2 separate regions of the Homo sapiens genome follow, and region 1 is linked to region 2. The links come from fine-mapping of genetic effects on gene expression. Tissue or cell type: whole blood. Region 2 holds a variant in brackets; the other region holds the start of a gene. All regions are shown on one strand. Distances are from middle to middle. Region 1 holds the start of ZNF608 (zinc finger protein 608). Region 2 overlaps ZNF608 (zinc finger protein 608).

Region 1 (14,266 bases), 100 kb before region 2:
AAAGACACATCATTAAAACCCAAATAAACAGAAAACATTAAAATATGGTTAGAAAACATGTTCTCGTATATTCAACTCTATTCTTAACAGATCATTACATTTTAAAGGTGTTTGCAAGAAAATACAAGGTGCTTCCTTAAATGATTTTAAGAATCTTAAAAAAGAGGACAGAAGGACAGAAAGGAAAAGAAAGGAAAATAAAAGATGATTAAAATATTCATAGTAGAAAAAGGTCCACAGAGCAGTCTGGCAGGCAATGCATGTGATGAGCTGTAGAAACCTTAAACATCCTGGACCAGAAGTCAGCCAATCAGGGGGCTGAGAACCACATTTCCATAATGATGATTGGCTGGTGGACTGGAGGCACCGCTGAGCTGTGAGGAAGGGGAGGAAAGGCTCTGCTGAGAAAATAGCAAAACAACTTTCTGGCTTTCTGTTGTTTATTGCATATTCTCCAAATGATTGTAGTGATTCATTCTTTAGGAAAGCTTGTTTTGAAAACAAAAGAGGCACAGTTGTTCACAACAAAAGTGATATTCAACAGCCAAAGGAGCCGAGTATAACGGAACTCTTTTATTCTTCTTTAAAATAAACTTTGGTCTCCTGATTTCATCTAACCAAATATGTTAAGACTTCCCAGGTGATGCATAAGGGTTGGATTTAAATATTAAAATTAGGCAGGGGTTACTGTTTCTGATAAGTATCACTGCTTTGTTCTTCTGTCAGCTTTAGAAAATGTGCACAAATAGAATATATTTTTATAAAATGTGAAAAAAATCCTTAAATTCTAGCATCAAAAGTATATTTAGTGCTTTCACACTTGAGGGAATTATGCCACTCTCCAAAAAGAAACTAATTTAGGCATTTTGTTTTCCTGCAGTCATATATGTGTGAAAGTTGGAGATACATGTATCAATGTGTTTGGTATTGCTCTCAATTTTTACACATATGTAAAAATCTACTGTCATGAAGTCATAAGGATTTTAAAAATGACAAAAGAAGAAGCAGAGAAATGGAGGCAAAGGAGAAAGATGGAGTGGAACGTAATGGCTGGATCCTGCTGCCTCTTGATCTTCCTGTGCTTGATCGTATTGCATTTTGTTGTAATTGTTTTGAATTCAAATAGAGCAGTGACAACATTTCACCTACAAGTTTTTAAATTTAGTTTTACAAACACTGTATCTACGGGCCATCTATCTGGAAATGAGAATAACTCTATAATGCAGATTAAGCAGAAGTATTTTGCAGTCTCTCCCAGTGACTATTCCTTGGCTAGCTAACAGACCAGCCATTCAGAAGCAATTTTCTTCAGGCTGAAATTATGTGCTGACCTTAGCAGATCACTTCCCATAATAACCCTTCCCCCACCCAATGCTAAATACAATCTGTCTCCTACTCACTGTAATAACGTGCAAATGACTGTAATTTTACAGACAAGAAACAGCCGAAAGTGAAACGTGTCTAAACAGAGGTCGATTTGAAAAATCAGGGCTATTACCTAAATCTGTAAAATACATATTGTAATAAAACCAGCAACAGAAATCTCCAATAAGTAGTTCTTTTTTTTTTTTTTTTTTTTAATGTAGCTTGTGTTTTGATCTTCTTTATGCAGCCAGTCTCTGCTGGCATAAAAGAAAAATCCTTTTCCAGAAATGGTTTCATTACACGAGATGTAAATTGCCTTACTTTGCTAACTGATCCTCAGACCTTGCTTGAGCACCCACTCAGATATAGCTGCACACACCACACCACAAAAGCCCGAGCCAAGCGGAGGTACAATTTCAGATACTTAACACTGACCTACATTGCACTTCTCTTAATGAGAGCAGTATACAAATGTTTTCCTTTAAAGATCACATTGTTTTGCCATATTTTGCTAGGTTCTCTAGAGCTGCAAGGCATAAAAAAGACAATTTGCTGCTTTTTATTTTGATTATTTTAAGATGGAGGATTAGAGACTATATGAGGAATTACATAAACATAGAGGGTTTATAAGTATATAAAGTTCTTCAACTTTATATTGCTTTACTAATTAAATGCATTGTAGTCTTAAATAAATTCACGTAATATTTGCTCTATATCATCGCAACTTGTTTAAGGTAAACTGTATTGTAAAGACATGTCAAGACAGTTATTACTTTCCCTCCCTTGGGTGGAGGGTCTTTTTGTTATACTCTAAGGAATTTAAACTGAAGGTGAATTAATAGGGCATAGAAGTATCTTGAAAAGTTAACATAGCAGAGTAATACGATGTGTGTAAATAGTCGTATTTACAAAATGTATATTGGAAATGTCCCACAGTCTTTCATGGCAGGGAGAACATTGTTGATGTTTTTCTTCTCTGAGACCCTTCATGCTCCCCAAAAGGACCTGAAATGTTATGGTGTGCAGGGGCCCTTCTTTCCACGGTAGACAAGGCTCTTAGTGCTTTGTCTTGTTCCAGTGATATTTCAGGATAATGCAAAACGTCAAATGTTTGACCAAGAACAACACTGCTCGTCTCCTTTTGGCAACAGTTATCCAGAAATGGATATTTTTGTTTTTTTAAAAAGACAGGGTCCGGCTCTGTTGCCCAGGCTAGAGTGCAGTGGCGTGATTATGGCTCACTGCAGCCTCGACCTCCTGGGCTCAGGTGATCCTTTTGCCTCAGCCTCCTGAGTAGCTGGCATTATAGACCACCTTGCCTGACTAGTTTTTTTGATTTTATATAGAGACGGGGTCACCCTATGTTGCCCAGGCTGGTCTTGCACTTCTGGGCTCAAGGCATCTTCTCACCCCAGCCTCTAAAAGTGTTGAGATTACATGCATGAGTCACCACATCCAGCCTGGGAAATGGATATTGTTTAAAGTACTACCCAGAAACTTAAATTGGATTTAGCATGCAGGTGTGAAAAAGTAGAGACAGTGTTTTTTCTAGAGGACCTTTAGCAAGTCAGGATGTTACCTGTAGGGAAAAAAAGCAAAGACCTTCTTGTGTTTGTGTGGGTGTTTAATAAGTCATCAACTGTATTCCCTAGAAACCAGGGCAGGACACCTGCCCACTGCCTTGAGGCCATCCTGTTGATAAGCAAACCCAGAGAGATAAGAATCTTTCTCCATAATCCTCTGGGATAGCCAGTAAGTTTCTCATTATGTCTAAATTAAGTTCTTTTTCCTATAAATTAACCCCATTTCCATGTTGGTTTCATTTTTTATAACTTTGTTTTCCACTTTTTCCCTTGATCCTGAGTAGATCTCAAGTGTCAATGTTGGCATAAATATAGAAAAGGTAGGCCTAGGAATAGACTCCCTTACAAATACACAAAAACTGGAGAAATAGATATATATTTAGACATGTTCTCATTCTGTTGCCCAGACTGGAGTATAGCAGTATGATCATAGCTTACTGCAGCCTCCAACTCCTGGCCGTTAATGATCCTCCCACCTCAGCCTCCAGAGTAGCTAGGACATAGGCATGTGCCACCACGCCTGGCTAACTTTTTAAAAATTTTTTGTAGCCGAGCACGGTGGCTCACACCTGTAATCCCAGCACTTTGGGTGGCTGAGGCGGGAGGATCACGAGGTCAGGAATTTGAGATCAGCCTGACCAACATGGTGAAACCCCGTCTCTACTAAAATACAAAAATTAGCCAAGCGTGGTGGCGCACACCTGTAATCTCATGTACTCAGGAGGCTGAGGCAGAAGAATCCCTTGAACCCGGCAGGTGGAGGTTGTAGTGAGCTGAGATGGTGCCACAGCATTCCAGCCTGGGCGACAGAGTGAGACTGACTCAAAAAGAAAAAAAAAAAGAAAAAAAAATTTTATAGAGACAGGGTCTCGCTATGCTGAGCAGGCTGGTCTTGAATTCCTGGTTTCAAGCGATCCTCCAGCCTCAGCTTCCCAAAGTGCTGGGATTACAAGCATGAGTCACTGGGCCTAGCCCAAGAAATAATCTTTGATCTTTAATAATATACCCTAAATCAGAGGAAATAGGCACCAAAGAAAGATCACCATGTTTTCCTGTGTTACTGCTAGAAGCCCCTGGCCTCCTCAGCATTGAGATCGTCTGTCTTTAAAAAAGGAGGAAAGGGACCTTTTGATGACCTTAACAATGATGTAGTACAAGCAGGGGCAGAGCTGATCTTGAGATCCAAGGAGCGGGTAGTGGAGGTTGTTGGAGGGGGATGATACTGTTTTGTTTGTTTGTTTGTTTGTTTGTTTTTGAGATGGAGTTTTGCTCTTGTTGCCCAGGCTGCAGTTCAATGGCGCGATCTCGGCTTGCTGCAACCTCTGCCTCCTAGGTTCAAGCAATTCTCCTGCCTCAGCCTCCCGAGTAGCTGGGATTACAGGCATGCACCACCACGCCTGGCTAATTTTGTATTTTTAGTAGAGATGGCGGTTTCTCCATGTTGGTCAGGCGAGTCTCAAACTCCCGACCTCAGGTGATCCGCCCACGTCGGCCTCCAAAGAGCTGGATGATACTTTTTAAATGCCCCTTTTACACTATCCTCATGCTCCTTCCACCCCTCTGTTCCAAATACTCATTTCCTGACATCTCCTCCTTTCTACCACATCTCTGAGTAGACACTAAGGTGTAAAATTACATAGTGCTTATATTATACAGTAGTGTATTGATATTATGAAGTATATGCATGTGGATATTAGAATGGTGACAAATAGGTTCCTAGTTACCTTGATGAGAGATTAAGATAACATTTTCATCTCTATAAATACAGAAAACTTCCCAATTTTGTGAGAGGAGTAGCTCTGATTTTCAAAACTGGTAGTTAATTGTCTTAGTTTCAGTCATCAATTAGCTGATGGTCCTCTGATGCCTTTTGATTGGCCCCTTTGTCAAACAAAACAAAACAAAACAAACACAAGAAAAGCCAGTCTGACAACACTGGTTTATTCAAAAGTCTCCTGGAAGAACCTGGGAGGAAGGAGGTGGGGGTGGGGTGTAAATGGAGTGTGGAGATGTTGGAATGGAAGGAAATACTTTAATTTATCAAAATGGTTTGGGTTAAATATGTGGTAGAGTCGGGCCTAAGCCTTCATCTTGGGCCAGTAGGGTTTCTCAGAAAGGTTTAAGGTTTGGGTTTAAGTGTTGAAGCTCGGGTTAGATTAGATTATTTGATTATTACAAACCCTAAACTTTGGTTTTAGTTAGACTTCATCTGTGCTGCAGACGCTGTAATTTGTTTTGTATTGGAGGAACTCCAATCTTCTCCAGCTTCACTAGGTCTCATTTTTAAATGTCCCATTCTTTTAAGAACTACCTATATATTATTTCCAAACTAATATAACATATGGGGTAGGCATGGGCTTCCAAAGGCTGAGATGTAGATGACACCCCAGGGACACAGGAAGTGCCCAAGAGTGATCTGATCCTTTGAGAAATCACTCTTTTAGAAGAAGAAAAGTTAAAAAACAGTATGGTGCTGTATTCTTATCAATGGGGCATACACAAATGTAAAATCTGTATATTCAAAAATATAAAACAAATCTCAAAGCTAAAATGGAGGCTAGGTAGATATCAGATCCCTAATTTGCCCATTTTATTTGTTAAAGTACAGCTTTGATTTGAATACAAATTGACTTAGGGAGAGCTAAGGACTAGTACAGATTGCATTCCTCTGGTTTATATGTCCCAATAAAGGGTGGAAACTGCTGTTTATTACTATTTGCAGCCTCAAATCTAGTTCATTTATGGTAGTGAAACAGCTAATTGGCAATTTTTTTATGGACTAAATATATTGAAAGCTCAAACATGAGTCAATAGCCATTATTTAAAATATGTGACATAAATATTTTTATTGATCCACGAAGTCATCACTGAATATTTACATCAGAAGCTGTCTTCTGCTAGCACTCATTCACTTTACATGTCCATATGACTCAGTTAAGACACAACCTTAAATTACAATTGTCACGTGGAAATTACAATCCCAGTAGTACTGGATCTTTAAAACTTGGGATCATGATGCTTTCAGTTTACAGTAACCTTTGACTTTCAAATGTCCATATTGTAGCTTCTAAAAACAATGAAGGTAACAATAAAAAATTAAAAATTAAATGTACTCTAAAGGCTTAATATATGTAAATACATTAGCTTAAATATGTTAGCTGTTATAGTAAAATGTTAAACTTGTTATTTCATATTAACCTCTCTTATCCTATGAGCTGAGTCTCATTAACTTGGTTGCTGGCATTTGTCCTACAATAAATTCTAAAATATTTCTGTGTTTGTGGATTGTAGATGTAGCATTCAGAGGATTCATGATGCCCCCTTCCCCACCAGTGGGGTTAAAGATATGGGGGAAGAGGAATTCTGACCCTTCCACAGTTTAAATACGTGTACTGGGACTGTTTAACAGTTAATCTTCCTAGTACATTTAACTTTCATAAGTCGATTTTTTAAAAGATGAGGCTGGCCCGAGGTGTTACTATGTTTAGCTGGGGCCTTATTTTAATATTAAGTTTTTCTTTTTTGGAGTCACATAACACCAGGTGGAAAAGATTTGTTACTAATTCCAGGGAAGAACCATTCACATAGTGTTGGTTAAATGGTCGCCTGCGTTCACACTTCAGTGCCTGTAGACCAGAGCCCTGGAAACAAAAGGGTTACTTGTTTCCCCACCATCGCCTTTACCCGCAGATCGATTTTTCTTATTTAATCAGCGAGTAAAAAGAGAGACACAGGGAAGAAAAAAAAAAAAAACTGCAGGAAGGGCAAAGTGGTGGGGGGAGGGTTGAAAGCCAGAAGCTGCAATACAGAAAATCAGTCTTGGGAGTTGGGCTGCGAAGTCCTTGGAACAAGGAAGGGAAGCCGGCAAAATGCTCGCAGTCAGTTCCACACAGCCAGCCTCCCTTTTCTCTTCGCTACGCGCTAGCGGCTCGTTTGGCTTCTCTCTGCCACCGAGCGATCACATACATTATTTCCCCCAAGATAACACAATCAAACTTGTATTTACCGACATCCTCTCCTCGCAGCCTGTTTGAGATTTGTTTTAATAAATAAGTGTTTTATGTGAATGATGTAGTAATTGAAAGGGGCGCACCATTTTTTTGCCTTCTTACTGCGGGAGGTTCCTCAACCCCAATCTGGTTGGAAAATAAAACGCTTTGTCTCCACAACCACCCCCCACAGCACCCCCACCCGCTCTCAGTGTGTGTTTTATACGTGTGTATATCTCAACCCCCTACAGTAGCCAAGAGAAAGCAGCTAGCCAATGAGAGAGCCCAGTTTCATAAAAGCTGCTCTCTGATTGGCCCGATGCGAAAGGGCACTGGGAACAAAGAAAAGTCCCTTTCAGGTATAGAGGCTGAGAGCTTCTTTTGCTCCACTCCCCCTGTGTGTGTGTTGTGTTTCAGTCCTGATTTAGTGTTGCAGAACAAGCTTGTTGTGTGTGTGCACCAGGGGGATTTTTGTTTTGCTTTTTTTAAATTTTAATTTTTGCTTTTATAAAAAATACACAGGACGGTCTGTGACATTTGATGGTCCATCTTCTTTAATAATAAATTTGTTGAAGAGATTATAATTTCCAAAATAAAGCGGCTGCAACCAAACACATTCAATGCAGTTAGAAGGAAAAGGTCAACTCGATCCAATACAGACCGTAAGTACGGTTGCGTGGTGTGTCTCTATATAGCACTTAGCGGGGACTTCATGCAGGGGAATGTGCGAGTTTTATGCATAGAAATGAGGAACTAGTTACAGGGTTTGGCTTTTGCATTTAGAACAACAACCCAAGAAGGGTGAATTTTATTCAGTGGAGGGTGAAGCATTTGTAACTTCACACAAATTAAGCTTGACTGGGCACTCGGGGTAACTTAGAGGAAATTAGCTTTTGGGCTCTAACCCAAAGGAGAATAAAAGTGACACAGTTGCATATCCTGGTCTGCAGTGTCAATTCTCTAGCTCACCTTACTCCCTCCCTCTTCTGTCCTAGCTGGGCAGACCCCCCTCCCAAAGCGATCCAGGAAAATGGGGGCAAGGGCAGAACAAGCCGATTTCTGTCTCCTGTCAGATCCCAGTGCCCGATAATTTAATATTAAACAAGGGAATAGTCACTCATTACATGTAATGGTTATAATTACCATTCGCCATCTCCTTAAAAAAGCAAGCAACAAAAATACCATTAAGAGAAAAAATAAAAGCCCCACCCAACCCAAACAAACCCACAAATAGTAACAATGGTGTATTTATTACAGGACCAGGCTGGGGAGCAAGCAAAAGGTTTTTCTTTGTTTAATACATGAAGTGGGGGTCCCTAAAATCCAAGTAGCTCGGAGATACCCTTCTCCCTCCCCCAGGCGTCCCCGTCCCTGGCCCCTTGGGAAAGCCGACAAATTGGAGATAAGTTGAGGAAAGGTTTATAAAGTGTTTCTTTAAAACATCTGCTTTGCTCTTGTGCTCATTACATTTCGCTCCTTCCGAACTTCGGAGATCCTAGATCTCCGAGAAATGTTTCACATTCATAACTTGTAGCTTCGCCCACTGCGGGGGGGCGGGGGGAGGAGGTTGGGGGAGTGTGTGCAGGGGGAGGGGAGAGACTTTCAGCTTTTTTTTTTTTAAAGACCAGATCAGTATTTTCTTGATACGCTTGTCACCATTTTTGTTCTCACGACAACCAATTGAGCCCTTGATCCTCACGTGATGTGAAAGGCTTGCACTGTAACAAAATCGCTCCTTTTAGATGGTTGGTTGTTACTAACTCGCCCATCCCCCTCTCCCAGCCCCGACATTTCCAGCAAAGCGACTCTCCACTTCCAATCCATCAACAATTCATTACTGCTTTTAGCTTCCAAACGCCAGCTAATTAAAAATACTAAGCCAAGCTCCGGGGCCATCTGACTAAACACAGGAGGGGCTGGGCGAAGGGAGAGGAGAGAAAAAATAAATAAAAGGGAGACACACCGTTTGCTGCGAGTATAAGAGGGAAAAACTCCCGAAAAGGGTCGCCTTAAAAAAAAAAAAAAAGAAAACAAAAACCTTATTTTGACTCTAATTATCGAATTACCACATGACTGGCTGACCTGAGCGACAGAGGATTCCACTCCCCTCGGGAGCTATACTAGGAACTCAGTTCCTTTTTCTTAAAACAACATAAGACAGGAAAACATCACATCCTTTAGGTTTCGAAGACTGAGCCCATTTTAAACGCCGTTATTTTCCCCACCCCACCGCCCCAAGCCCCCCGCCCCCCGCCCCGAGCGAATGCTGTTATAACTGGTTTATCAGCTCACTGAATCATCTGCTGTCTCCTCCTCCACACCTTTCTTTTTCTCCTCTTGCCCAGTTTCTCATCCCACCCTTTCTTCTCCTCCTCCTCCCTCTACTCCCCCCCTCCTTTTCTCTTAAGTTAGTTCAAGAAATCAAATCTGTCAGGACGGGCGGAAAAATGCCACTTCCCGACTAACAGGCGGAATCCAGCCCAGATTTTCAGTCCTTTCTTCTTATTCTTTCTTCCCTTTCACTAATTTATCCCGATGTTAGCACATTCTGTCTCGTTACTAGCGGACGCCTGTAGGTTTGCTACATGGGATCATTACTGATCACGGTGACTCTGAAGTCTGGAACTGAAGGCGGAATGAGAAGTTGGGAAAACTTTTTTCTCTAAACTCTCTGTTTTTTAAAAAACTATTATTCTCGATGCTTGTTAAGAGGAAAAAAAAACCTTTGGTGCTTCTGTTGTGAATGTGAAACATTATTTTCCAGCTGTACAGTGACACATTTTTTTTAAGGAGAAAAGGACTGATTCGTTTGCCAAAAGGGGGGTGGGGAGGTGGAATAATGTTATCGAGTGATTATTCTGGCTGAGATGTGTTATTTGGTTTCTTCCTTCTTGATCATTTGGTGTTTAAGTAAAATGAGGCACAGGCTTGTTTGCCGAGTGGAGTGGGAAAGGCATTTTGATTTGCTGGCCTAATTAAAAAATGATAAAGGATTAAAAGGTAAGCAATGTCTGTGTGTGTGTATGTGTGTGTGTATGTATATTTATTTATTTTTTTCTTGACAATCAACTGTTAAAAAGGGGCTGATCCCTTTAAAAACCGTTTTAACTGCTCTTTGTCAAACACACTCATTTGCGGTCATTGAGGCCACCTTGGCGCAGATCACTTAAAGTGTATGTCTTAATCAGTTTTCTGTACAGTCAGTAGCACCGTATTTAAGAGAGTGAGCAATTCTCTGACCTAGGAATATGGTAGAATTGTTTAAATGTATTTTTTTCTCAAAAGGCAGGTATTTAACTTTTTATATAACACTGTCTTTTCTAGAGAGAAATGCTCTTAAAAGACATGCATATTTCAAAAAAGAAATTGTAGAAGCTGTTTGGGAAAAGAGGATAGGAGGGAGGTATGTGTGTGTGTTGGGGGCAGTTATTGGTTGTTTTTTCTGTTCCTTACTAGGAACAAAAAACAGATTGCCCAGACAATTTGTAAAAAGAAGTACTGAAACCTAAATTAGAAATAAGGAAAATTTAGCAACATTCTATTCTGAAAACTAGCCTCAGAACTTCCAGGGTCTGGTCTTCTAAATTGCAAGATCTAGGACATGTTTAGGGATGTTTAAAGCTGTGTTCTTCCTTCTTGTCTGAGTGTTCAGGCTGTGTTTCTGGGGTTGAGATATCACATGTGCCAGACTGAAATCCTAAACTTTAAAAAAGAACACAAAAACCTTTCTGGACTTGAATCAGATCCTTAAGATAATTTAATGCTTTTAAAAAGGTGATTATCCTTGTGTTGTTGATAAAGGGATTTTCTTTTTAGCTACCGTAAGATGCTTACTGTCATAGGTTTATTTTTCGGGTTTGGTTATTTTCCTTTAAACCTGATATTGGACTGTGAGGACAATACATGAGCCACCTTACTCTCCATCCTTCCCTGTCCCCTTTACTGATTCCCCAATACTAATCGTTTTTTATTCTGGTAACACCCAGACAAGAAATATTCGACTTTTCCCCCCCCCTTCACAGGAAAAGGTGGACCTGGACTGAGGGTGTAAAATCCCTGGACACATTCGTGGGGCAGGAAAAAGAAGAGGAAGATTAGAAGATTTTTTTTTTCTTTGAGAGAAAGCCCAGCGGAGATAAACGAATGTCCCCTCATCTCCAAAGAAAAGTTCATCGGATTTTTATTCTAGAGAGCTCATCTTCAGGATGTCAGTGAACATTTCTACTGCAGGAAAAGGTGTGGATCCAAATACAGTTGATACTTATGACAGTGGCGATGATTGGGAAATCGGGGTTGGAAATTTAATAATTGATTTGGACGCTGATTTGGAGAAGGACAGACAGAAATTTGAGATGAATAATTCCACCACCACCACTAGTAGCAGCAACTCCAAGGATTGTGGAGGTCCGGCCTCCAGTGGGGCTGGTGCTACCGCAGCCTTAGCTGATGGCCTAAAATTTGCTTCTGTTCAGGCCTCTGCTCCCCAGGGGAATTCACACAAAGAGACCAGCAAATCAAAAGTGAAAAGGAGTAAAACTTCTAAGGATGCTAATAAATCTCTGCCTTCTGCTGCCTTGTATGGGATTCCCGAGATCAGCAGCACTGGCAAGAGGCAGGAAGTCCAAGGGCGCCCTGGAGAGGCAACTGGCATGAATTCAGCGCTGGGTCAAAGTGTGAGCAGCGGCGGCAGCGGCAACCCAAACAGCAATAGTACCAGCACCAGCACCTCTGCCGCCACCGCGGGGGCAGGCTCCTGTGGGAAAAGCAAAGAGGAGAAGCCAGGTAAAAGCCAGAGCAGCCGAGGCGCCAAGCGGGATAAGGATGCGGGGAAATCCAGGAAGGACAAGCACGACCTGCTTCAGGGCCACCAGAATGGCAGTGGCAGCCAGGCCCCTTCCGGGGGGCACCTCTATGGCTTTGGGGCCAAGAGCAATGGAGGTGGCGCGAGCCCCTTCCACTGCGGGGGCACTGGGAGTGGCAGCGTCGCCGCTGCAGGGGAAGTTAGCAAAAGTGCCCCGGATTCAGGGCTCATGGGAAACTCTATGTTGGTAAAGAAGGAAGAGGAGGAGGAGGAGAGCCACAGGCGAATCAAGAAACTGAAAACTGAGAAGGTAGGATAAAGTCGCCTTCCTAGATGTCCTACTCTCCTCTGTGTGCATTTGTGTGGGTGTGTGGGGGTGTGCCTCTGTGTGCCTTACACTTTATGCTTTCTGGTTCTTTGTGAGATTTCTATGATATGCATCCTTTATATTAAAATTTGATATGGGGGAGCCTACTTGGGTGCAGTGTTTGGCTCTTGCTTCTGCTGTCCTTGCTGCTGCTGCTGCTGCTGCTGCTGCTTGTGATGCTAGTGTTTGGGTTCCCAGGTGGGAGGGCCTGAGTGTTCTAAGTACCTTTTGCCCTGTAGATCGGTTCCTCACTAGTCAGCAGGTTGCCGTGTGCTTTTAATAGAAAACCTGCTCATGCACCCTCTTGACTCTTGTCCTGCTTTCTTCCTTAAGGGGAACAGTTTTCTATTTTAATTTATTCATCCTAGTATTGCGGGTAATGTGTCCTTAGGTGCAAGGTTCAAGTTCCCTCCCTGGAGAGGAATGTCGAGGATTCGAATTTACATTCTACAGACCTCATCCCTTTTATTTTTTCTTACTGTCTCCAAAATAGTACTGTGAAAGGATATCCTTGAATGAGTTCTTGTTATTGGTCCTGAATGAAACCCCAAGCTTGATGTGTTGGGTCATTGGTTTCATAACTGCAGAAAAACTCGATGGTTTTGGTGGCTGTTAGCACTCTACCCCTGTTCCCTCACCCAGTTCTTAGCTAGAGATTTAAGAGTGTTATCACTTGGATACCTGACTGGGGAGCTGGACGGCTGCTAAGAAGAATAAAACAGACTTGCTGGACTGATACTCGTGAAATGTGAAAATGTAGCCAAAGGGGATGTAGACGGTTGAGTGAATTGGAATATAGAATTATGTGCTGCATTTAAACGGTGTGGATGGTTGATTTAGACCATTTGGACCCTTCTCCCCTTCTTTGTACAAGTCTATAGTTAGACACTGCCTTGGAAGAACTGCCTGCCCCGACACCCACACCATGTTTTGCTGCTTAGTCATAGACCACATTGACTAATGTTTGGGAACAGAAGGTGTTCTGTCCACTAGGCAGGTTGGGAAGGAGTTAGGGGTGTGTGTGTGATATTTCTATGAAATTAATCTTCATATTAATTCTACAGGTTGTGCCTTGCAGAAGCAAGCTTTCTGTCATGTGGGTTGTGGCATGGTTGTTGGGGAACATCCTTATTAAATAATTTTGATTTTTTTTTGCTATAGTTGGCGATTGGGATTGTAAGTGGTGATAATATGTCTTTGGAGAATTATTTCTGTGTAAAATGGTTCACTGCTACTTAAACTTTTATATTCTTGTTTTTGTGTTCAGGATTTAAGTTGGAGTATAGGAGTAAAGTTTTGATTTTTAAAAGTTGATAGAGGCACATTAAGGTGTAGATAATGCCAAATTTGCAAAATGCCTCCAAACGCTTATAAATTCATATCCTCTTGGTCAGGTACATTAATGAATATAAATGAATTTTTGAAAATTCCGGGTTTTGAGTCTTATATTTAAATGTGTAGTTTCACATTATTTCCGCTAAAAGGTGTTCTGAAATCTTCTTATTACTTAGTACAGTAGGGCATTTACTTTTGTTGCCAATAGTCTTCAAATTGCAGTTCTAATCTGCTTTAACTATCTAGATGAATTGCCCTAATCCAGTGCTCACAATGGCTGTGGTTAAGGAGTCAGAGCCATTTGATTGGATTCACTGGCTGCTTGGAATGTGGGAGGTACTGCCCTTTTGCATTCCCCTTAGCCTTTTAATCTTCCAGCCAAATGTTCACATTCAACAATTTTGTTTAGCTGGCAATCGGAACATTTCAGTATCTAAAAGGCTGCTGTCATGGCAACTGAGATTAGAGCGTGGTGTCGTTTCTCCAGTTTTTGTGTGTTCTTTTCACTTTCCAGTCACAGAGGAAACTGGGTGAAGAATGGAAGAATTAAATTATTCATATACATGCAACTCATCTTCAGTTAGAGCAGTATAAATGTGATAAATATGAATTACATAAATGAAGAGCAAACAAGTCATGGTGGATCTGGGGTGGGGGAGGGAAGAAAGCACACTGCAATTTAGATTCACTTCTGATCCTATACCAGAGGAAGCTGTGCCACCAATCTTAGCCACTGGAGTTGGCACAGGGGCCCCTCAAAGGCTTGGATCCAGGGGCTTGGATCCTGTAGTGTTGGCCATTCTCTGTCAAGTTGGGCGTTGGCTCA
Region 2 (15,437 bases):
TGACCAGTCAGCTGGATATTGACCACCTGTCTTCATGGGAAAGAAATAGATGGCAGTGAATAAGCGAGAGTCTAGTTTTCCAAAGAAGCTCAATGATTTTCCCAAATCAATACAGCTCATCAGGCCTCAGAACAAAGGCTGCAGGGGAGGTGACAGTGATGGAAGTGGCTCTGTGTTCTTTTGTGTATTAAACCATAAGGCCCATGGGGAAACAAGGTTTCTTTAGCTGTGTGTGTGTGTGTGTGTGTGTGTGTGTGTGTGTGTGTGTGTGTGTGTGTGTTTAGGGCTTATTCTGTGTATTTAGGGGGAAAATCCTTTCAGATTTTTTTTTTAAAAAAGGATTTCCATAGATTGTATACCAATGACCAAATGTACTTTTGAAAGAGATAAGTACAGTCAAGTAAGAAAGATTATCATGTTTTAAAATGCAGAGTAGAACAGCATTTTTCCATTGCTTTTGTTATTGCTTAAGGTTTCATTTTTTGTTGTCGTTGTATGTGGATTGGGTTTAGATGAACCAAAAACAAGTCTGTGTTCAGATTAACCTCTGGCAAACCAAGAATCGTAACTACCCTCCCATAAACAAACCCTGTTCCTAATGCCCTGAAAATAACACCAAACCCTAATAGGAATGCTCAACTGTCATCTGAGAGGTTATAATTAACGCAGATAGAGTGATGCCAACATATTCCAGCCGCTGACAGAGAAGATCTATCCAAACCAGCAATTTTTAGCCCTTCAGTCCTTTAATCTTTAAGCTCACTGTGCTTTCATAAAGTAGTACATTAACACCAGAGCAGTGTGTCTCTGGGGTTTATGACTGGGGTGGCGGCACACTAGGGCATAAAGTGTTTCATTACACTTCCTTTTGTTAGTACTGCCCTATCTCCCAAGCTCCATTGCCATACACTATTTGTTCAGATAAAGCCCTATGTTCAGGGTGACTAATCGCAGCACTGTGTTCCAGATGGTTTGATTACAGGATGTGTTTAAAGTGACTCTTCAAACATTCAGCCCAGCGGTAGGGCTCTTTAAAAAAAAAACATACTGCATTTTATGGTCATGTGACAACACTTACTTTTCCTGTCCTAGTGCTCTATATATACTTGGCACAGGTAATGGGAAAGTCCCTCTGATTTTTGGCTGGCAGGTATTTTATGAGCAACCTTAGTTGTACATTTTAAATTTTCCCAAATAATTATATTTGAAGAAGGATCTGTCTGAAGGTTATAAGCTCCGAGGCTGGAACAGCGAAGCTTGTGCTATACAAGATTCAGCCTTTACAAAGTACCAGTATTGAATACCACAGAGTGACGACAACATAATAATGGGGGGAGGGAGTCCTGAACAAAGAAATGGTGATAAATCATACCTTGCACAATAGTCACGTTGTGTAAAAATGGAGGGTAATATGATATCTGAAATATATGAATTTTATCCTGTACTCATGAAATCAGCATATTGTGACATTTTGTCACCAATGTTTCACTAGAAAAAAATATATAAAAGGAAAGAAATGTGTAAACTTTCTTTTTTAAAGGCATATGGCATGAATGGGTTACCATTTGGTGTTATTCGAATGAGGTTTCTGTTTTCTGCCTGGATGCACATCAAATGCATCCAGATGTGGTAGTCTGAGAGAGTTCAAAAAAACTTCTGTCTGATTCCAAACTCAGCATTTGCGATGCTTGGCAAAGACTTCTGTCCCGGGGATGAGGCACTTTAAAGACTCTGAAGCAGTCTTTAAACTCAATACAAACAGAATTATGTCAATCCACTGGGAAATCAGGCATTTGCCCCGTTCTTGAGGAAACAGCTTCACAAATACCAGAAATAATAATTCATAAACCACATTTATAACATCTTGGGAGCAAAGCCTCTCCACAGAGAATGTCTATCATCTATAAAACTAGTGGGAGATTATGCTTATTGAAAAAGTATGGTAGTAATAAAAGGAAGTCACTGAGTAGGATTCAGTCTAGACTCTCTCTCTCGTCAGTCCTCGTGTAGTTAGTTCCTAGGTGTTTAATGAATTCTCACTATTAGGTAGCCACTGTGCCGCCAGGGGTTGTGGGTGCAGACACTGCTCCTATTTTCAAGGAGTGTCATCTAGTTGGAAGAGTTAGGCATACTGTGTATACAAGCAGAGTAAAATATTATGGGGGCCATGTATTACGGTAGGACAAATAGCCTTAAGTTCAGACCTGGGAAGTTCTCCTTGTCATTCAGGGTCCCAGATGAAGGAGACTCTGCCACCTTTATCCTGAGGACTTCGAGATCACAATAGCCATTTCCATTGCAGCCAGACAGAAAGGGATGAGAGGTTCTTATGGGCCAGGCCTGGAAGTGGCCCACATTCATCAGTTCTCTCACTTGCTTTCTGTAGGACTCAGTCACATGGCTGCATCGGACTGATAGGGAGGCTGAGAAGGAGTCTAGTTGTGAGCTCAGAAAGGGGAGGGAAACATGGCTCGTACGTTTCCATCAGGGCAAGAACTGTGTATGCAGTGCTGTGGGGATCCAGGAGAGAATGGCTGTCTTTTGGCAGTGTGCCTGGTATGCGTGTGTCTAGGGCAAGGATTCACAGAAGTGAGAACCTTTGCATTTGTCTCCATTTGCTTCTAATTCATTAGGAACTTTAACTTTCCCTAGGGATTTGGACTAAGGCATCTTCAAGGTTTCTTTTAGGGGAATTAAAAATGTGACATGAAGAACGGTTGAAGAAACTTGTCTAGGCTGGAGAGTAAAGAAGACATAGAGGCTGGGTGTGGTGGGTCACACTGTAATCCCAGCATTTTGGGAGGCTGACGGGGGAGGATTGCTTGAGGCCAGGAGTTCAAGACCACCCTGGGCAACATACTGAGAGCCCATCTCATTAAAAAAAAATAGGAAAAAGACAGTGAGCAGGAGGTGGGGAGAATGCCAACATGGTCATTATCCTTGCCTGGATGAAAGGCTGTTGAGTGGATGATGGGTGGACTGCATCTGCAGGGTATCAGGAGGCTCAGCCAGGACCAAGGTATTCAAAGACAAATTTAGTTTAACACAAGGAACAACTTTTTAACAAGATGGCTGGAAAATAGGCAATCCTGGGGGAGTGCTGGTGAAATCTTCTATCAGTGATGAAGCTGGAGAGAAAAAGGACACACACACACGCACACAAAGTCCTGAGGGTGTTGCACCAACAGTGCAGTTGGCTTCCTGGTCTTATAGCTATTGCGCCCTTGGAACTTTGGCCCATCATGGTTCTTTACGCCTCTTACTATCTTGCAAGCTTTAGGCTTCTACTCCTATTGCCAGTTCTTTGGAACTTCCATATTTCTCATTCAGATTCCCAACATAAGTCCCTGTTGGGCTGGCTGCCTTTGCTCCAGGTGCCCATCACTGGTCCAGTCAGATGGGGGCAGGGTTAGGATCACTGGTCTAGGTGGGGGCACCATGAACATGAAATCCAGGGTCTAGCCTGACGTGATAGCATAAGGGGCCTACTGTAAAAATGCAGGTAATAGACAAAACTATACTTCCACTTGTGCATCACAGTGTATGCCTGTGTCTCTTCTGTTCTTTTCATGCACAGACTCTTGAAGTACAGAGTTTGGATGGAGCTCCAAGTAAAACATGGTTGATTCCATAGCACTAAATAGGCACCTAATGTGTACCCTGTAGACACACACAATAAGTGTTTGTTGGGCTTGACATCTTCCTGGAAACCCTTTACAAAGGACATAACAGAACACTGACTGAAATCCTTATGAGGTCTCAGGCTTTTTTGGCTTGAGGAAGTAACAGGCTCAGGTTATATAATAAAGACCTTGTTCTTATTAAATGTTCTGTAGGTAATAGGCCTTTGGGGGCAGCATCTTAGACAAAGTGTTAACAGTACAAAGAAGAAAGCTGTGTGTGGTCAGCACACTCTCAAACCATCCATTGTACTCTTCAGCTGTATTCTTACTTTATTAGTAATAAGCCTCAGATGAAATGTTACAGGGCATTAGCTCTCTGACAAAGGCCAGGCCCAGTCCATGGGTGGAAAGGGAAGAATAATAAACCTGGTAGAATACTTGAATATAAAGATGAAAAGTACCTGTATAGAACGTCCCCAACACCTAGCTCACTGGCTAGATGTTTGAATAAATGTGCGTGAAAAGAAACTAATCTTTCTGGAATAAGTGTACACTTATTTCCAATTCACATGTGAGAAATAGAACTTTATGCCCAGATTTATAAAATACAAATTTGCACTTTTAAAGAACTAATTTTCATCATGGGCATTTATGCCTTCAGTAAGTGTAGTCTGCTTTATGTGACTGTGGGTTATAAAATGTTCAAGATTTTGAGATTTCAGCAAAATGATAAATCATTTACAAGTTTTAGAACCTAAACACCGCCTTTATACTTGGCCCTTCACAATGGGGTGTTGTCTAAACATAGACCTTCTTACAAAGAAACAGTACACTGTGTAGTTTATATGAGAAACATTCCTTAAGCCTTCATTCCAATATAGAGTGGCAGATTTGGCTGTGTAAACATGTGCCTGTATATATTCGGATGTGAATTGTGGGCAGATTTAAACACTCTGTGGCATTGTGAAGCGGCTCGTACATATAAAGAAAGATAGACACAAGCACACATATTTAATTAGCACTGCTTGATGGAGACTGTTCAAAATCTCCTTGGGTGTAAAGCATTTGTTTTGAGCATTTTAAATACGGAGTGCTTCTGGAAAAATAAGGGTTACTTATTTAGGCCCTTTGAGGTTGAAAATGGATTTTTCTTTCCAGGACTTGATTCCTTCCGAGTGCAAATAACAACGGCATCACTTGTACTTCGATAAGAGGTCTGCTTGTGTGGCTTCCAGAAAGAGCAGCAGGAGATGTGAATAATTTTACAGTGAGGAAGTTGCAACTGCAGATTAGCCTTTGTGACAGCTTCAACCTGTGGCCCCAGATAACCAGTGATTAATTGCCTGCCCTGGGTCCCTTCCTTTTTTCAGACTCCAGGTTTCCCTTGAGCCTGTATTGAGACGGTGAATTTCGTTCTGAGGGTTCTGCGTGGGCCGGCGTGTTGTGTGGAGCCGCGTGGCGCGGGGAGCGCAGCACGGTCACGCAGACCGAAGCTTTCACTGCACGGCCGGACTCGTTAGTGCGAATGAGCCTGTGTCCCGCGTGCACCGAGGGAGCCGAGCAGCGCAGGCGGCCCTCTAGCCCCGCACGGCCAGCGCGCCGTGGGGGATGCGTCCCTTTGCCTCCGCCACGCTCACCTCTACCCGACCGCTGCCTCTGTGCTCCGGGCGGCCGCCTCGGCCCAGCCAATCAGACGCGAGTGCTCGCAGCGGGCGCCGGCCAATCCGCGGCCAGCGTTCTCTGGAAACGCGAAACCCTTAGGGGAAAAGCAATAACAAAAGCCTTTCACTGCAGACAAATGTTAAGTGTCTGTGCAGACTTTTCCTGTTTTTAATTTTATTACTGCAAGAATGGAAGGTTTGTTGTTTCTTTCATGTTTCCTTTCAAGCAATTTTAATTATATATTTGTGCTACATCAGGGACTCTGGAACGCAGTGATTCAGCCTATTGGATCTAAAGCTAAAATGCAGTAACCTTCTGGCAGTACAGATATATTCCTGCACTGTAAATATAGCTGACATGCTAAAGAATTTTAAGCAGCTGCAAAGGTCTTTGACACCACACACAGTGCCCCAGAGAGAAGATGATGAGAAAACCAGCTCAGTCTTCCCCTTTGCCTCCTCTCCCACCCCCTCCCCTTTCCTGAAGGGATGTGTTCATAAAGAATCCTTTCCTCCAATTGTTCTGTCTTGTGCAGATTTTGACCAAATGCCTAATTACCATGGATTCTCATCGCAATAGGAAATTTTATACACAATGGTTTTAAAAAAATTTCCTGAGGGAATTTCATTGGAATCAGCTATGATTTGAGGAAATACTTGCTTTGCTCCATCCTAGCCTTTCCCCTGCTAGCCTATTGCTACAGTACACTGAATTAACACAGAGTAAATAATTCAGCTGTTGCCTAAGTAATAGCAACATAGACCATATGGGAAACAATTTTAAAATCTCCTTTTGAGACTTTGGAAAGAAATCGTTCTCCATTACTTGAGTCCCAACCATTGAAATATTTTACCTGCTGTTAAAAGGTTCCCAAGGAAATGAGTCTTACCTTGTCAGGTTTCCCTTACTGTAAAGGAGCCCACTACAGGTTTTCTGTAAAATTCACAATGGCAATGGTAATGCAAGTGAGCAAACTAGCTAGAAACAGATTTTGACTAATGTCTTCTGGTGCTTCCAAGAAAGAGTAGGGGTAGATGCAGAAAAGAAAACAAAGGCTCAGTTAAATATTTTATTTCTTTACCCTAATAATTTATGTATGTCTCAAAATCAAGGTTCTATTAAAATATGCTTTAAAGAAGTGATTTTTGTAATTTGGCATTTGTCCTCTCAGAAATAAAGAGGATATTATATTTTCTCTGTGACATTTGGTATACTAAGCACACTTAAGTTTAGTAATTCACAGATGCAGTGCTAAATTAAATTGTCTGTCTGAAAAGCAGTTGGAAAAAGCAGAATGGCTTGCAGGAAACGAGTGTGTTAGTTTTGAGATTTCTTTTCTAATCCTCTGAGGCAAATGCGTACCAAAGTTGACTCCAAAGATAACCCCAAGAGTAAATCTATTGTGCACATTTGTTTTCTTAAGAGGGCTATTTTAGGAGTCCTTAATATGAAACAAAACCAAACACTGAAACAGATACGGTACCCAGGCTGATTACTGTCTCACAAAGTCAAAGAGGGGAGGATTAGGGAAGTGAAATCGTAGTTGATTGTCTGCTATCTGGACTCTTGAGTCCCCACTCTCCTGTCTATGCCTATTTTTATGCACCTGCATAATTATTTTTTCTTAATAAAAATCACCATCATTTTATATTGTTGAATTGGAAACAAAACCGATTCCTTTCAGTCACCCTCTGGTTTAAGCACTGGTAACTGGCGCTAGTTTATATTGGCTGCTTGCCAAACGAAAGCAATTATGTGTAATAATAGAAAAATTAAGAGGTGAGTGTTGCTGTTTTACAGCAGGACATGGCAAAAACCATTTCCTTCTGTCAGCAGTATCTTGATTACACTCTCACACACAGTCTCACTCCTTTGTACCACATGCGCACGCGCACGAATGCACAACACACATTATTTCCTGTGGGTTTTAACTTGAGGTCACTGAAACCAGAAAGAGGAAGAATGCAAACCACAGCTTTTAAAAGCAAATGAGAATAGAACTTGCTGGCAAAAAAAAGAGAAA[A/G]AAATAATAAGTGAACTGGAAATAACAGTAATCAGTGGTAACTATGATCCTTTTTCATCCCCTGCCTCCTGCAGGTGTCCTAGTGGTCAATGTCACGTGGAGGAACAAAACGTACGTGGGAACCCTACTGGACTGCACCAAGCACGACTGGGCCCCTCCCAGGTATGAACAGGGCCTTTTATTTCTCTCCTTCCCCATCCTCTCTTTGCAGGGAAACTGTAGAGAGAGATTCATAATACATAAAAGTGTGCCTGTAATTGAAACCAGGCAAAGGAGAAATGAGCAATTTAGGATTGAACGCAGTAAAATGCAGATGCTAAATTTCTTTTCTATCAGAAGATCTCTGCTCCCCACCCCTTCTCTCCTGTCTTTGTTTTCATTTTTTCTCAAAGTGGGAATTTGAACTGGTTTGGAAGCTAGCTACTTGAGCTGTTTTTCTTTGGTTTTTCTGAGGAAGAATATAAGCCCTTGGTCGCCTGTTCTTTTGCAGGTGTTGGAAATTGTCAGTCTTTTCCTTGACTGGGCCCAGCCCTGAAGCTACTGGAGTGTTGACTCCTCTTTACTGCATTGTGTACTTTGTGATTTCACCTGGCTCTTTTGGGGATGCTCATTTTCACATCTGTTACTTGCTTCCATAGGTTTTGTGAGTCACCGACAAGTGACCTGGAGATGAGAGGGGGCCGGGGCAGAGGGAAGAGAGCGAGGTCTGCTGCTGCTGCCCCGGGCTCCGAGGCCAGCTTCACAGAGTCCAGAGGGCTGCAGAATAAGAACAGAGGGGGGGCCAATGGGAAAGGGAGGCGGGGCAGCCTCAATGCCAGCGGACGAAGGACACCCCCAAATTGTGCTGCTGAGGATATCAAAGCCAGCCCTTCCTCCACCAACAAAAGGAAAAACAAGCCTCCAATGGAGCTGGACCTGAACTCCAGCTCTGAGGACAATAAGCCTGGAAAGCGTGTCCGCACAAATTCCAGAAGCACTCCCACTACCCCTCAAGGGAAACCAGAGACTACTTTTTTGGACCAAGGCTGCTCTTCTCCAGTGTTAATCGACTGTCCCCACCCAAACTGCAACAAAAAGTACAAGCACATTAACGGCCTGAGGTACCACCAGGCTCATGCACACTTAGACCCAGAAAACAAGCTGGAGTTCGAGCCTGACAGTGAGGACAAGATCTCGGACTGTGAGGAAGGATTGAGTAATGTGGCACTTGAATGCAGTGAGCCAAGCACAAGTGTATCTGCTTATGACCAGTTGAAGGCACCGGCATCCCCTGGTGCTGGAAACCCACCTGGGACCCCAAAGGGAAAGAGAGAGCTGATGAGCAATGGCCCAGGTTCCATTATTGGTGCTAAAGCTGGGAAGAATTCTGGCAAAAAGAAGGGCCTTAACAATGAACTGAACAACCTTCCAGTAATCTCCAACATGACGGCTGCGTTAGACAGTTGCTCGGCAGCAGACGGCAGTTTGGCTGCTGAGATGCCTAAACTGGAAGCAGAAGGATTAATTGACAAGAAAAATTTAGGAGATAAAGAAAAGGGCAAAAAAGCTACCAACTGCAAAACGGACAAAAACCTCTCTAAACTGAAAAGTGCCCGGCCCATTGCCCCTGCCCCAGCCCCCACTCCCCCGCAGCTAATCGCTATACCCACTGCAACCTTTACAACGACCACCACTGGGACAATACCCGGACTGCCCTCCCTCACAACAACTGTTGTTCAGGCTACACCAAAGAGTCCTCCGTTAAAACCCATTCAACCAAAGCCCACAATTATGGGAGAGCCCATCACCGTGAACCCAGCTCTGGTGTCACTCAAAGACAAAAAGAAAAAGGAGAAGCGAAAGCTAAAGGACAAAGAAGGGAAAGAGACGGGAAGCCCAAAAATGGATGCCAAGCTGGGGAAACTAGAGGACTCCAAGGGGGCCAGCAAAGATTTACCTGGGCATTTTTTAAAGGATCATCTCAACAAGAATGAAGGGCTGGCAAATGGACTGTCGGAGTCTCAGGAGAGCCGCATGGCCAGTATCAAAGCTGAGGCCGATAAGGTTTACACTTTCACAGACAACGCTCCCAGCCCTTCCATAGGGAGCGCCTCGAGGCTGGAATGCAGCACTTTGGTGAACGGGCAGGCACCAATGGCACCTCTGCATGTGTTGACCCAGAATGGGGCAGAGAGTTCAGCTGCAAAGACAAGCAGCCCGGCCTATTCAGACATATCTGATGCTGCTGACGATGGTGGTTCTGACAGCAGGTCGGAGGGTATGAGATCAAAGGCCAGTTCCCCATCAGATATTATTTCTAGTAAGGACAGTGTTGTAAAAGGGCATTCTTCAACTACAGCACAATCATCTCAACTGAAAGAGTCCCATTCTCCCTATTACCACAGCTATGATCCTTATTATTCTCCAAGTTACATGCACCCTGGGCAGGTCGGTGCCCCTGCAGCTGGAAATAGTGGGAGCACGCAGGGAATGAAGATCAAGAAGGAGTCTGAGGAAGATGCTGAAAAGAAAGACAAGGCAGAGCAGTTAGATTCTAAGAAAGTGGACCACAATTCTGCATCCTTACAGCCTCAGCACCAGTCGGTGATCACACAAAGACATCCTGCCCTGGCTCAGTCACTTTATTATGGCCAGTATGCATATGGGCTCTATATGGACCAGAAGTCTCTGATGGCCACCAGCCCTGCCTATAGACAGCAGTATGAGAAGTACTATGAGGACCAGAGGCTGGCAGAGCAGAAAATGGCCCAGACTGGGAGAGGAGACTGTGAAAGGAAAAGTGAGCTCCCCTTGAAAGAGCTGGGCAAGGAGGAAACTAAACAGAAAAATATGCCATCGGCCACAATCTCAAAAGCTCCCTCTACTCCGGAGCCTAACAAAAACCATTCTAAACTAGGGCCATCAGTGCCTAATAAAACTGAGGAGACAGGTAAATCGCAGCTTCTCTCCAATCACCAGCAGCAGCTTCAGGCCGACAGCTTCAAAGCTAAGCAGATGGAAAACCACCAGCTTATTAAGGAGGCTGTAGAAATGAAGTCTGTCATGGACTCTATGAAGCAGACAGGTGTAGACCCAACCTCGAGATTTAAACAAGTAAGATTGTGGAGCGTGGCCCCAACAGGGAGAGAGCAGTCTGAGACTTGTATTATACATGTCTGGGCTTGATCTGGTTAGACTTCTGACACAGGAAAGAAACCCATATTAGTTTTTTCCTCTGCTCTTGAAAAATATCTTAAGATTCTCAGGAGTTACTATGTAGCTCTAAAATGTACATTATCAGTATTTTCTTGTCATGGTGTATAGTAAAAGGAACTGTGGATGGGTGCTTTGCAGATTTGTGTTTCATGCCACTAACTTGCTCTGTGACTCTGATGAGGTCCATTAATTTCTTTTTTTAAATTTTTTAAATTTTTTGAGACGGAATCTCTCTCTGTCACCCAGGCTGGAGTGCAGTGGTGCAATCTTGGCTCTCTGCAACCTCCGCCTCCGTTCAAGCGATTCTCCTGCGTCAGCCTCCTGAGTAGCTGGGACTACAGGCACGTGCCACCATGCCCGGCTAATTTTTTGTATTTTTAGTAGAGATGGGGTTTCACCGTGTTAGCGAGATGGTCTCGATCTCCTGACCTCATGATCCGCCCACCCTGGCCTCCCAAAGTGCTGGGATTACAGGCGTGAGCCACCGCGCCTGGCCAGGATCCCTTAATTTCTTAGTCCAAGGCGAGGGCTTTCCACAATGGGGCTGCTGAATTCTCTTCTAACTCTGAGATTCTGAGTCTTATCTCTGAAATATTTATTTTCCATTTTCAAATTTCTACTAGCATCTTCTTTGAAGATAATAAAAACTGGGTCCCTGAATTCACATTTCCCATTAATCTTTTTAATAGAATTTGGGGCCCAAATTTCTTTCACATGGGGTCAGAGATGCCTAGATTTCAGTCTTACTCCCTATATTAAGTACCCCAAAACTCAGAGCTCAGTGCTGAATGTTTGTGAGGAGGGTGAGGAGGTTTGGGTGGCAGGCCTCAACAGCTGTCCCAGAGCCCCATGGGTCAGTCAGCTTGAGAACACCTGAAAATTGGTCACCACGAAACCACAAATGTACTAGCACCTTCTGTCATGGTTCAGACATCCTGACCCACTGCAACCCCGTGAGCATTAATCCTGGTTATTTCCCAGCACTGCACATCCCCACTCCCACCCTCACCCCCATGCTTAGATAATCCCTGGTGCATTAGAGCAAGAACCACCAGCCCCCACCACCGCCACCCACACACACACATTTACTTAGGCACAACTTTGCATGTTCTCTGAGAACCTGAATCCCCAGTGGGTTTATATCATGAATGGGATGGGGATCACAAAGGCCATTTAGGATTCTCAGTTTCCCCACTTACAGAGGCATAAATCAGGCTGTCAATTCACAGGGCTGCAGAAGATTTATATAATTTTGGGGGTTTATAGATAGATGGCTTTGTTTTCCAATAGAGAAGCCATAACGTGTGCTATTAATTTGAAATTTTGTTTTGATTAAGATGTTAACACGTAATGAGAAGTGAGCCAATATATTAAGCCTCAGCTGCAGTAGATGAGGAAAATGTATTAGGAAACCAAGAGTTTTTCCTCCTAAGTGATGTTAATAGCTATAGCAATTACTTAAATTTACTATTATTAGCTTGAGTTGGAGTTTTTAACATTCTTTTCACCTGTGTGAGATATTAAAAGGCAAACGAAGACAGAATTAAATATGTCTGAGGATGTTATTTAGTGTTGAGAAATGACATTAAGGGCCCAGCTCTGAATTTCAGCAGACCTGAGTTTGAAGCCCAGCTCCACGACTGGGCAGCAGCATGACCTTGATGTTGCCTGAACTTTAAACACTTTGGTTTTATCTTCTGTACAGGGGATCAGTAATAATGCCTACCTGGGACATTATTACTTTGTAAGAGAAGGAGGTAAAGCAATTAGCACAGTGTCTAGCACAGAAATAAATGTCAACTTAGCATTAAAATTAAGAGTGCTAGTGCTGTCATGATTATTAACAAGTTTTCTTTAAAATTGAAATTTTAAAACAAATCTGTTGGGTTTTTTTTCTTTAAAACAAAAAAATCAGGACCCAGATTCAAGAACATGGCATCATTATGTATACCAGCCCAAATATCTGGATCAGCAAAAGTCAGAAGAACTTGATAGAGAGAAGAAATTAAAAGAGGATAGTCCGAGGAAAACTCCTAATAAAGAGAGTGGTGTGCCCAGCCTTCCTGTATCGTTAACAAGCATTAAAGAGGAGCCCAAAGAGGCCAAGCATCCTGATTCTCAATCAATGGAGGAGAGCAAGCTGAAAAATGATGATCGAAAGACTCCTGTGAACTGGAAGGACTCTCGGGGAACAAGAGTGGCTGTCTCCTCACCCATGAGTCAGCATCAGTCATACATACAGTACTTGCATGCTTATCCTTACCCACAGATGTACGACCCCAGCCATCCTGCATACCGGGCTGTTTCTCCCGTCCTAATGCACAGTTATCCTGGTACGTGTTGTCGGTTCTGACTATATTGGAGGAAAGAGGCGATGTTCAAATATTAGCTGTTAAAAACTCAAGATAAATTAGAAGCTTCAAGAGTGACATTTGTTTTCCTTGTTTTTATGCTGTTTAAAGTCCCAAAGATAAAACTGATTTAATATAAGTTTTTTTAATGAAATGTCAAGAATCCTCAGCCATAGTTTCCATAGTCTCTGATGGTCTGCTATAGCTGTTAGGCTGACAGATACTTTATTGCCTATAAAAATATTCTAAGCACTTACTGTCATAATCATTATAGTTACTATTCCTTTCACTTAAGCGGACACGTAAATGTATGAAATGGCTATAAGCTCAATTCTGTTTATAACCTCCCTTCATCAGGATGAATTAACTGGGAGAAGAAAATTGGAGAAGCTAGACACAGTTTAATGATGATGTAGCCCATTCTTAATGTAACCCCCTATTTTAAGATCTCTTTGACTCTTATCCCAAATTCATGTAACCCAAATGATTTTTTTTAAAGATATAGCCTGTAACTTGATGTGGCATTTGTTGTTTATCTGCAGGGGCATATCTCTCTCCAGGATTTCATTATCCTGTTTATGGGAAGATGTCAGGGAGAGAAGAGACAGAGAAAGTCAATACCAGCCCTAGCGTCAACACGAAAACAACCACTGAATCTAAAGCACTGGATTTGCTCCAGCAGCATGCTAACCAATACCGCAGCAAGTCTCCTGCTGTAAGCCTCCTTTTGTTGTTATTTAAAAGTACTGTGATTTGGGGAGAAAGGGGAACAAGCTAGAGAACAGTCTTGAAATATAAATGGTTTCGGAACCCAGCTGTGATTTCAGGATGCTGTTTTATCCTAATACGTAAAGAATGGAGCGTTCAAAAGTAAGACGCTTTCACACATGAGAGAAAATTGTTAAAGCACGTATGGCAGTAGCAAGCTTTTCTGTTGCAAAATCTAGTATACCTTGCTTACCCAGGAGGATGGTTGTTAGGTGGAAATTTAAATTCATAGGAACCAACTTTTGGTGCAAAATATGTTTGATAAGACATTGAGGAATTAGGTAACAGAGGAGTATATTTTATATAATTTTGGTAAGTAAGTAGTTCAGAGGCTACAAACTGTTGACTTTTTGGGCAAATCAAGCTTTTCAAAAAATGTTTTCTTGCAGGATACCTTTTAAAAATCAGACATTTTACATGCAAGTTCAGATCACCTCTTTCTCTTAAGACAATAGAAAATCTGGGCCGGGAGTGAGCCACTGCCTGTAATCCCAGCACTTTGGGAGGCCGAGGCGGGCAGATCACCTGAGGTCAGGAATTCGAGACCAGCCTGGCCAATATGGTGAAACTCCGTCTCTACTAAAAATACAAAAAGTAGCCTAGTGGTAGTGGGCACCTGTAATCCAAGTTACTCAGAAGGCTGAGGCAGGAGATTTGCTTGAGCCCGAGAGGCAGAGGTTGCAGTGAGCAGAGATTGTGCCACTGCACTCTAGCGTGGGCGACAGAGCAAGGCTCTGTCTCAAAAAAAAAAAAAAAAAAAAAAAAGACAATAGAAAATCTGGTTCAAAATGACATGGCAGTAACTGATGGGAACTAGTAGCCCCATCTAGGCAGATGTGCTGCTCCCCATCAATGTGCATGGATATAAATAGAAGCTCCCTAATCTGCATCACTTATCTTTGTTGTTAACTTGACTTCTGGAGAGATTTGAGGTTTCTGCTACTTGTATTGACCCTTCATATTCACATCATCAGTGTTCATGGTTGGGGGTTCATCACGAGCAAAGCTGAGTGCCCGTGACATGTAATAAGGCACAAATTTGAGCCTTGTACAGTGTGAGGCTCATTTGCAAGAGTAAGTCATGTGGCTTAGGAGTGAGAGCTGTGTCTGCTGTTTTCTGGCCTTGACTCTTTGTCATGTCCCTTTAACTCTGCTGAAGTAATACAATGTCTGTGAAAGATGGCTCTTCCCCAAAAAAGGTGACTGCTCTAGTCCTAGAGACTGTTGTGAAGAGAGACTAAACAAAAATAGGATGGTGCTTGGCTAGGAAAGAGTTTAAAGTAAATTAAAATAATAGTATCTGCAATGTGTGTGAGTCTACCAGAAACTCTATAGAGAAACCAGAAAAGGGGATTTCTGAATCTTTTTCTGAGTCCTCCTTCTTAGTACAAGGATTTCTTTTAAGTGAGAAGTATAACTTTAGTTAAAGGGTGGTTAGGCTGTAAAGGTAGAAAGTCATAGGAAATGAACCATCCTTACCCCAAACTATGGTTTGGGAGGATGGGGCCTTCTCTTTGAGAGTTCAAAAATTGAGAGATTCAAAATGTGGGTGTAGGACAGTGATTTCTTGTGCTTTATATTGGCATATAACTTTAGAGCATGTTTTTTCAGTAGAACAAAATGTATACAGACACGTTTAAAACTGTGAGATATGTTCTCTCCACAAAATACAAGTGTAATTAGAAAACTTGACCTTAAAGATATCTCCAAAACTACTTATTTTGTAAAAGTTGTTTATGGGAAGCAATTGGGTAAATTCTTAACCTGCAATTATGAATGAATATAGAGAGAAATCCTCTTATTTCCGTCATTTCA

The links.
Region 1: it holds the start of ZNF608, and the variant in region 2 is fine-mapped to the expression of ZNF608 in whole blood (INTERVAL, PIP 0.97).

Annotation. Positions count from the first base shown.
Region 1 is chr5:124,741,866-124,756,131 of GRCh38, reverse strand. It overlaps ZNF608 (zinc finger protein 608), which reads left to right and starts at 9,493. Exons shown (of 10, transcript NM_020747.3): 1 at 9,493-9,937; 2 at 10,960-12,048. The coding sequence starts at 11,143. RefSeq lists enhancers at 7,255-8,253, 8,381-8,560, 8,254-9,252, 11,292-11,361, 11,201-11,894 and 5 more and a silencer at 7,136-7,375.
Region 2 is chr5:124,641,643-124,657,079 of GRCh38, reverse strand. ZNF608 (zinc finger protein 608) reads left to right here. Exons shown (of 10, transcript NM_020747.3): 4 at 7,383-7,470; 5 at 7,947-10,401; 6 at 12,419-12,836; 7 at 13,397-13,569. Among named protein-coding and RNA genes, the nearest start is that of ZNF608, 97 kb to the left of the region's middle. RefSeq lists enhancers at 4,997-5,046, 8,059-8,567. The variant A/G (reference allele first, on the strand shown) is at 7,309.